2 linked regions of the Homo sapiens genome follow. The protein of the gene in region 2 interacts with the protein of the main gene of each other region in a biochemical or structural test. Each region holds a gene or a part of one and is shown on either strand. Other genes may lie near its edges.

Evidence for each region. Proteins that work in one complex are often made in the same cells at the same time.
Region 1: of the proteins of MAP3K10 (region 2) and MAPK14, one has a biochemical effect on the other in vitro, tested with the Homo sapiens proteins (one study listed by BioGRID).

What each region holds. Positions count from the first base shown.
Region 1 is NC_000006.12:36,099,956-36,104,307, forward strand, and holds part of MAPK14 (mitogen-activated protein kinase 14), read left to right. Parts: intron 1-232; coding exon of another isoform or gene 233-312; exon of another isoform or gene 313-318; intron 319-2,615; coding exon 2,616-2,694; coding exon of another isoform or gene 2,695-2,747; exon of another isoform or gene 2,748-2,809; intron 2,810-4,352. UniProt on the Homo sapiens protein: Serine/threonine kinase which acts as an essential component of the MAP kinase signal transduction pathway.
Region 2 is NC_000019.10:40,197,164-40,202,368, forward strand, and holds part of MAP3K10 (mitogen-activated protein kinase kinase kinase 10), read left to right. Parts: intron 1-1,211; coding exon 1,212-1,392; intron 1,393-5,205. UniProt on the Homo sapiens protein: Activates the JUN N-terminal pathway.

The DNA of each region.
Region 1 (4,352 bases), on a different chromosome or scaffold from region 2:
AAAGAAAAGTAATTTTTCTTATCTGCATGGCCAGTCACTGGCTACGTGCCTAGTTACTCATGTCATTCACAGAAGTGTACTGTAGCATGCAGCTGTGGGCTCTCGGGTAGGGGGAATGGAGGGTAGGTTTTTTTGTCTGTTTGGGGGTGGCTTTTTGACCTTTTTAAAAACTTGAGTTGAAAATTATTTTTTGCACTGTATGTTTAACAATGCCCTTGACTAGGCATCTAAGATATTAACCAGCTTCAGCAGATTATGCGTCTGACAGGAACACCCCCCGCTTATCTCATTAACAGGATGCCAAGCCATGAGGTGAGAACAAAGAGACTGTACAGGGATGTCGCACTGAGAAGCCACATTCTCATTTTATTGCCACCGTATAACCAACAGTTCTTAACATCACTGGATGCTTGCATGTGCCTTGAGGCCTGCCTATGTGCTATTGCAAGATGTTGACTTTTGGGATAAAATGTCATCCAGTCCTGTGAGATTGGGAATATAATTAGTAAGCTTGTAAATGGAAAATTGTTATTTTTATATTTGGTTGTGTGAATTTAGTGCTTGTGAGGCGGTTTCTTTCTAGGTGCTCTGCCTGTAGCTAGGGTGTGCTACTATCGTGACCTTTATCAGAAGGGTAGTTAACTGAAGTCCATTAGCATGCTTTCCAATTCATCCATTTTTTTAATGACCAAAAGAGGATTCTTTATTTAAAAACAAAACTGAAATATCCAATACTAATATGTACTATATTTAAAAGAAAATACACAAATAATATAGAATAAATACAAACACTTTGGTACAGTTAGGTACCTTCTTTATTAATTATTAACTACTTAGTCTAACTCTTGTTTTATTATCAGAGATGATTGGGGCACTTCTTTCTTTGTAAGATACCCTTAATATTTTGGGGAACCAGGTTGGCATCACAGAGGGCCCTTCCCAGCAGCTTTGTTTCTACTTCAGCTATATTCAGGTCGTCTTTTGATTTATCTTTATTAAAGGGATGACTGTTCTCTGAATGAGATAGTTCTCTCTTACCTGTTTTCCCTTCCTCTTTTTATTTACATGTTCAAGTAGAAAGGGATTACAGCCATTTATGTATTCAATTCCTAAAACTTTCTTTTCAAATCAGAAAGATTCTCAATTGCTTTTCAAAGCAGACCTTTCCTCCTGACTCCACATGCAATAATTAAGAAGCGGAAGGCTGGGTGTGGTGGCGTGCACCTGCAACCTCAGCACTTTGGAAGGCTGAGATGGGAGGATCAGTTGAGCCCAGGAGTTTGAGACCATCCTGGGCAACACAGCAATACTGCAGCTCTACAAAAAAATTTAAAAATTAGGGCATGATAGCACATGCCTGTAGTCCCAGCTACTTGGGAAGCTGAGGCAGGAGGGTTGCTTGAGTCAGGAGTTAGAGGCCATAGTGAGCTGTGATTGTGCCAGTGACCTCCAGCCTAGGCAACAGAGCAGAGACTGTGTCTCTAAAAAAATTTTTTTAATAAATAAAGAAGGTGAACTTGCCCAAGCAACCAGATTTTTTTTTTTTTAAGACAGGATCTTAACTCTGTCACCCCAGCTGGAGTGCAGTGGCACGATCTTAGCTCACTGGAACCTCCACCTCCTGGGCTCAAGCTTCCTGGGCTCCATCTCCCTGCTCAAGCGATCCTGTTACCTCAGTCTCCCAAGTAGCTGGGACCACAGGCATGCGTCACCACACCTGGCTAATTTTTTGTATTTTTGGAGACAAGTTTTCACCATGTTACCCAGGCTGGTCTCAAAGTCCTGGGCTCAAGCGATCTGCCCACCTTGGCCTCCCAAAGTGCTGGGATTACAGGCGTGAGTCACCGTGCCTGGGCAACCAGAACTTTTTATAAACTTGTGTGTGTATGTGTAAACATAAATATACATACATACTTTTACTGTTGGACTGTATTAAAACAGGAGTTTTAAAGAGGTGGTTAAGATAGACAGCAGACTTTGCTTCTGAAGGTGATAGTGGGATAGCAGATAATGTTTCTTGAACTGTCACTTGGAACCAAGTACTGTGTTAAGAAAGTACTAGGTTTGTTATCTCTAATCTTCACTCCAACCCTGTGAGGTAGGACTGTTATATTAAGTTTATATTAACTTTTTTGTTACCACCGTTACTTTGTTAGCAAGGTTTAATATTGATATCCTTTGATGTACTAAGAGCACCTACTGAAGTCAGCACTGTCAAAAGACTGCTGGTCCAAGACTTGCTTTGGGAATACCAACCCCTCTACCAATTTAGCTGTTTGAGAAGGCTGTCTCAGGGCTACTTCTTACATATCTTGGCCTCAGTTTTTAAACTTCTCATCCTGTGATCAGAAAGCTAATGAAAGAGAATTTGATTGATGAGCATTCTCGTTCACTTGAAATGCAACTGTGAGAGATAGCAGGAATAAAGAAGGTGATGATCATAACTAGGGAAGTTAGGATGGCAGTAAGGGAGAAGTTCTATCAAAGACAGTTAGAAACACTGAAGTTAGTGGACTTTGTCAGTTAACACTCGTTCCTTAGCAGGACCAAGATTCTTTCTTTGAGAGCAGTAACATTATTGAACAAAGTCATTCTGAAAACCCTTGTTTTTTCAGGCAAGAAACTATATTCAGTCTTTGACTCAGATGCCGAAGATGAACTTTGCGAATGTATTTATTGGTGCCAATCCCCTGGGTAAGTTGACCATATATCCTCACCTCATGGATATTGAATTGGTTATGATATAAATTGGGGATTTGAAGAAGAGTTTCTCCTTTTGACCAAATAAAGTACCATTAGTTGAATCTTGGAAGGTGATAAATACGGCTTTTATTATCTATTTGTGTTGTCAGATTTTTTTTTAATCACATGAGATGATTGTATGTTTAAATGATCACAGAACTTGGGATTGGGGGAATGGGCAGGTACAGTGGAGAAAGGAGAGAAAGTAATGGGAATGTTGAGAGAAAAGATTGGTGAGGCAGGAAGAAGCAGATACAGAAGAAAGCTGTAACTTGCTCACAACTGCTGTGGATTTATGGTGTCTCTGAGTGGAGGACAGAAACCACTGAAGTGCAGGTGGGTGTTTAGAGGAGCCACCCAGGAGCTCCCTGCAGGGTGCTCTGCTCTAACGGTAGCTGCCGTTGCTACAGATCCTGTCGTCTTCCACACTCATGAACTTTTCCCCTCTCCTCTTCTTTCTCTGCCCTCAGAGGCATAACCGTCCTCTCCTGTTTGTGGAGCTTATTTGCTACCTAAACTTAAAGGAATGGCTTCCTATGCCTTCAAGATCCTTGGCAGAGGGAAGTGATGGTGGCAGCTGAAGATATGTGTTGCCTTGGCTAAAAAAGGAGTTGCTTTATTATTATTATTTATTTATTTATTTATTTATTTATTTTGGTAGTGTCAGGGTCTCGCTCTTTTACCCAGGCTAGAGTACAGTGGCACAATCATAGCTCACTGCAAGCTTGAACTCCTGGGCTCCAGTGATCCTCCTGCCTCAGCCTTCCAAATAGCTAGGACTACAGGCATGCATCCCCAAGCCTGGCTAATTTTTTAAAGAATTCTTTGTAGAGACAGGGTCTCACCATCTTACTAATCGTGGACTCCTGGACTCATGCAGTCTGCCCACTTCAACTTCCAAAAGTGCTGGGATTCAGACGTGAGACACTGTGCCTGGCGGACTATATTCTTTGAAGGGGAGGAGTGATGTGTGCTTCAGATGGCCCCTGAAAGCTGCTTTGCCTGAGGCTCATTCCCTGACTCTTGAAGAGGACAGTGGACAGTGCTGTTTAATGGTGGACACAGAAGGATCAGACCAGGACCTCCCTACAATAGGGAAGGGAGCTATGCTATGGTAACGAGTATAATCTGCCTTCTCACTTTTCTTAAGATTGTATTGTGTGGTGTGTTTTAAAATCTCACTGCATTTCTTTGCATCTGTTTGGGTCATCTGTCTTCTTAAGGGTCTTGGCAGCTATGCTTCAGGTTTAGTTTTATCTTTTTGAGGGCTGACAGCCATGCTGACCTCTTTAGAAGCTGGGGTGAAGGCTAGGTGATTTTACCTTTTTAAGTACTTCATCCATAGTGATTATGGAGAGGAATTTTAGTGTCGCTGTGATAATTCTTATAATAGCAGAGATACTCACGCTCTTTGAAGTTTTGGGCAGTTGTGGATGAGTTCGTGTCAGCCTTGGAGACAGAGAGTATGTCATATCTCAGCTGGGTCGCTCTCCTGCCCTAGGATGAATCCACAGTCTCATCAGGGGTGGGTACGATTCTACTGAGACTGGCTTAGGTTTGCATCTGCCCTGGCATGCTCTCATTGGCTTTGTGTGATTTATTTGAGCTGT
Region 2 (5,205 bases):
CAAGCAGGCTAGCTGAGGCATGTTGTCATGGTGATGACACAAGTGCAAGAGGGCCAGCAGACATGCAAGGCCTGGGCTTGGAATTGGCACCCTGTCATTCTTAGCCAAAGCAAGTCATACGGCTGAGCCAGAGTCAGGGTGCACTCTGCCTTTGTTTTTGTTTTTGTTTTTGTTTTCTCGGAGACAGAGTCTCGCTCTGTCACCCAGGCTGGAGTTCAATGGCGCAATCTCAGCTCACTGCCACCTCCACCTCCCAGGTTCAAGTGATTCTCATGCCTCAGCCTTCCAAGTAGCTGGGATTACAGGTGAGCACCATGATGCTCGGCTAATTTTTGTATTTTTAGTAGAGATGAGGTTTCACCATGTTGGCCAGGCTGGTCTCGAACTCCTGACCTCAAGTGATCCGCCTGCCTTAGCCTCCCAAAGTGCTGGGATTACAGGTGTGAGCCACCGTGCCTGGCCATACTCTGCCTCTTTAGCAGAAAGAATGGCAAAGTCTCATGGCAGAGTGTGGACACAGGAAGGGGTAGAATTGGGACCCTGACTGCAGTGTGCCACGGGGGTGATAGACACGAGGGGGAAGCCACGTTCCTCCCTTCTGCCCCAGGTTTGCACTTCCTGCTTCCAGGGTAGCTGGGAACTCAAGGCCTGGAGGACTAAGGCCTTGGCTGTTGTTTCTTTTTTTTGAGACGAGGTCTCACTCTATTGCCCAGGCTGGAGTGCAATGGCAAGACCATGGCTCACTGCAGCCTCAACCTCCCAGCCTCAAGTGATCCTCCCAACTTAGCCTCCCAAGTGGCTGGGACTGTAGGCATGCACCACCACACCCAGGTATTTTTAAAAAGTTTTTGTAGAGATGAGGTCTTGCCATGTTGCACAGGCTGGTCTCGAACTCCTGGGCTCAAGTGACCCGCTTCAGCCTTGGCTGTTGGTTCTTGACCATTCATGGAGCTCCCCAAAGCCCAGGACAGAATCAGGAGGGCAGAGGACACAGGAGGAGCTCCCTACTCCCTCATGGGAGCCTGGGACAGGGATTAGACCTGGGCGGAGGGGCTCATGGATGTTCCAGGCCAGGAAAGGACCTGCCACAGAGCGGGGCAGCCTGAGGCAGTGAGAGGAAAGACGTGTTTCTAGCTGAGGCAGCGGGCCAGAACACTTGGGTCTGCGGCGTGGCAGGTCTGGGGTGACCCACCTTTCTTCCCACCCCACAGTCCTGATCCTGGAGGCCATCGAGAACCACAACCTCGCAGACACGGTGCTCAAGATCACGGACTTCGGCCTCGCCCGCGAGTGGCACAAGACCACCAAGATGAGCGCTGCGGGGACCTACGCCTGGATGGCGCCGGAGGTTATCCGTCTCTCCCTCTTCTCCAAAAGCAGTGATGTCTGGAGGTGCTGAAAGGCGCGGCCGGGATGGCCTCTGGGGAGTAAGGGAGGGAGGAAGGGGTGAGGGCAGAGTGGGAGGGAGGGTCTCCTGCTGAAGCCAGGATCTCAGTCTGACAAAGGGACCTGCTGGCAAGGTCAGGCCACCAGACAAGTGCCAGTTACCTGTTCAGCTAGCACAAATGGCAACTAGGGGGCACACTGGATTAGAATAAAAAGCTCATAGGATCTAGAGACAAGGCCGGGCGCGGGGGCGCACACCTGTAATCCCAGCACTTTGGGAGGCCGAGGTGGGCGGATCACTTGAGGTCAGGAGTTTGAGACCAGCCTGACCAACATGGTGAAACCCCATCTCTACTAAAAATACTAAAATTACCTGGGCGTGGTGGCAGATGCCTGTTGTCCCAGCTACTCGGGAGACTGAGGCAGGAGAATCACTTGAGGCCGGGAGGCAGAGATTGCAGTGGGCTGGGATTGGCCACTGCACTCCAGCCTGGGTGACAGAGCGAGACTCTGTCTCCAAAAAAAGAAAAAATTTAAAAAAGCATAGAGACAGCACATGGATGCTAGCACTGAAAGCCCCCTCAGACACTAGCCCATGCACTGTCCCATCTGTCAGACAGGAAAATGATTAATTCACTCATTCATTCCTTCATCTAACTGCACCGGGTTCTAGGGATATAGCAGAGAAGAAAAATACATGCAATCCCTGCCCTCAGGAATAGTAAGTCAGTCAACATACAAGAAGCTCTTTTTTATAAAGCTGTTTTTTAAGAAAATTATAATTTTTAAAGACAAGTACACCAGAAAAAAGTGTTAGTACAAAGTGCGAGGAGGCTGAGAGGAAGGCACTTTAAGGGCTGGAAGACTACTTTTGGGAACGCTTCTCTGAGCAATCTGAGAAATGATACTTCATCTGAGTTCCAAGTGGCAAAAAGGAACCAGTCACGAAAAGTTTGGAGGAAGAAGGAGGTGCTGAGGTGAGCATGGTGTGTCCCAGAAACAGCAAAGAGGCCCATGTGGCTGCCACTGTGCAGGCAAGGAAGAGAGAGGTAGGAAATTATGTAGGAGAGGGAGCTGGAAGGCCCTGTGGGTGAGGGAGTGGCCTTCAGGTTTTATTCTAATGAAGTAGGAAGCCATGAGGAGCCATGTCTGAATAGAGTGGTAGCTCACACCTATAATCCCAGTACTTTGGGAGGCCAAGGTGGGAGGATCACTTGAGGCCAGGAATTTGAGACCAGCCTGGTCAATGTAGTGAGACCCCATGTATATGAAAAAGAAATTTTTAAATTAATTTTTATAAAAGGAAGTAAATAAAAACTCCTTTGGAGGCCGGGTGCGGTGGCTCACGCCTGTAATCCCAGCACTTTGGGAGGCCCAGGTGGGTGAATCCCTTGACACCAGGAGTTTGAGACCAGCCTGGCCAACATGGTGAAATCCCACCTCTACTAAAAATACAAAAATTCGGCCAGGCGCGGTGGCTCACGCCTGTAATCCTGGCACTTTGGGAGGCCGAGGTGGGTGGTTCACTTGAGGCCAGGAGTTCATTCAGGACTAGCCTGGCCAACATGGTGAAACCCCATCTCTACTAAAAATACAAAAATTAGCCAGGCATGGTGGTGGGTGCCTGTAGTCCTAGCTACTCAGGAGGCTGAGGCAGGGGAATTGCTTGACTGCAGGAGGCAGAGGTTGAGATGGCGCCGTTGCACTCCAGCCTGGGTGACAGAGCAAGACTCCATCTGAAAAAAAATACTTAAAAATAAAAGCTCCTTTGACTGTTAGGTAGAGACAGCCAATGATGGGTCTGTTGCTGTCACCAGTGAGAGTTGATGGTGGCCATGGAGACTTTCAACCCAGGACCTTCTGCTTGGTTGGAGCCAAACCTGGGTCTCCCCATTTACTGTTCCCGTCAATTCCCAGCTGAGGCTCCAGATTGTCCAAGCAGCAAATTAATGGGTATGGGACTGAGACAGATCAGACAGGAAGTCTCCAGCTCAGCCTAGAGCAGAGCAGCCCTTTGGGAGAATTTCCAACTGGCTGTACATCAGGCGTTCATTTGTGCTACCTTTTTTTTTTTTTTTTTTTTTTTTGGGACAGAGTCTCACTCTGCCGCCCAGGCTGGAGTGCAATGGCACAATCTCAGCTCACTGCACCCTCCTCCTCCCAGATTCAAGTGATTCTTGTGCCTCAGCCTCCCGAGTAGCTGAGATTATAGGCATGCACTGGCTAATTTTTATATTTTTAGTGGAGACAGGGTTTCACCATGTTGGCTAGGCTGGTCTTGAAGTCCTGACCTCAGGTGATCCGCCCGCCTCAGCCTCCTAGAGTGCTGGGATTACAGGCATGAGTCACTGCACCCGGCCGGGCAGGCTAATTCTTTCTGATGTGGTCCTGTCCTGTACTTAGCAGGATGCAGGATATCCACACCTCCCCGCCATAAACTTCAGTAACATTCTCAGTCATTATTACAATCACAGTAACCCCATAGGTTTCCAAGGACATGGGAGAGAGGGGTGGATCATGCTACCCTCCAGTTATAAACCACTGTTTCTCCCCCACCTTGTATGGTCTCCATTCTGAAGTTTACTTCATGATCCAAAATGACTGCTTGAGCTCCAGCGTTTTTTGTTTTTTTTTTTTTTTTGAGCTGGAGTCTTGCTCTGTCGCCCAGGCCGGAGTACAGCGGCGCGATCTTGGCTCACTGAAACCTCTGCCTCCTGGGTTCAAGCAATTATCCTGCCTCAGCCTCCCAAGTAGCTGGGACTACAGGCACATGCCACCAGGCCCAGCTAATTTTTGTATTATTTATTTATTTTTTTTAATTTTTCAGTAGAGACGGGGTTTCACCATATTGGCCAGGACAGCCTTGATCTCTTGACCTCATGATCTGCCCACCTGGGCCTCCTAAAGTGCTGGGATTACAGGCGTCAGCCACCGCACCCAGCCTTTTTTTTTTTTTTTTTTTTAACAGGGTCTTGCTCTGTCACCCAGGCTGGAGTGCAGTGATGCCGTCACAAATCATTGCAGCCTCAACCTCCTGGGCTCAAGTGATCCTCCCACCTCAGCCTCTCTAGTAGCTGGGACTACAGGCATGCCACCACACCAGGCTAATTTTTTGTAGAGACGAGGTCTCACTTTGTTTCCTACGCTGGTCTCGATCTCTTGGGCTCAAGAGGTCCTCTTGTCTTGGCCTCCCAAAGTGCTGACATTACAGGCGTGAGCCACTGTGCCTAGCTCCACACGCCAGCTTTTTTTTTTTTTTTTTTTTTAATTTTAAGTTCTGGGATACATGTGCAGAACGTGCAGGGTTTGTTACATAGGTATACATGTGCCATGGTAGTTTGCTGCACCCATCAACCCATCATCTAGGTTTGAAGCCCCGCGTGTGTCAGGTATTTGCCTAATGCTCTCCCTCCCCTTGTCCCCCACCCCCCAGGCTCCAGGTTTTATGTCTACATTCCAACCACAAGAAGGGGAAAAAAGGAAAATGGCACCCCTTCTTTTTATTTTTTGAGACGTAGTCTCACTCTGTCTTCCAGGCTGGAGTTCAGTGGCACGATCTCAGCTCACTGCAAGCTCCGCCTCCTGGGTTCACGCCATTCTCCTGCCTCAGCCTCCCGAGTAGCTGGGACTACAGGCGCCCGCCACCACGCCTGACTAATTTTTTGTATTTTTAGTAGAGACGGGGTTTCACCGTGCTAGCCAGGATGGTCTCAATCTCCTGACCTTGTGATCCGCCCGCCTCGGCCTCCCAAAGTGCTGGGATTACAGGCGTGAGCCACCGCGCCCGGCCTCATTTTCTTACCCATGTTGTTTTTGTTC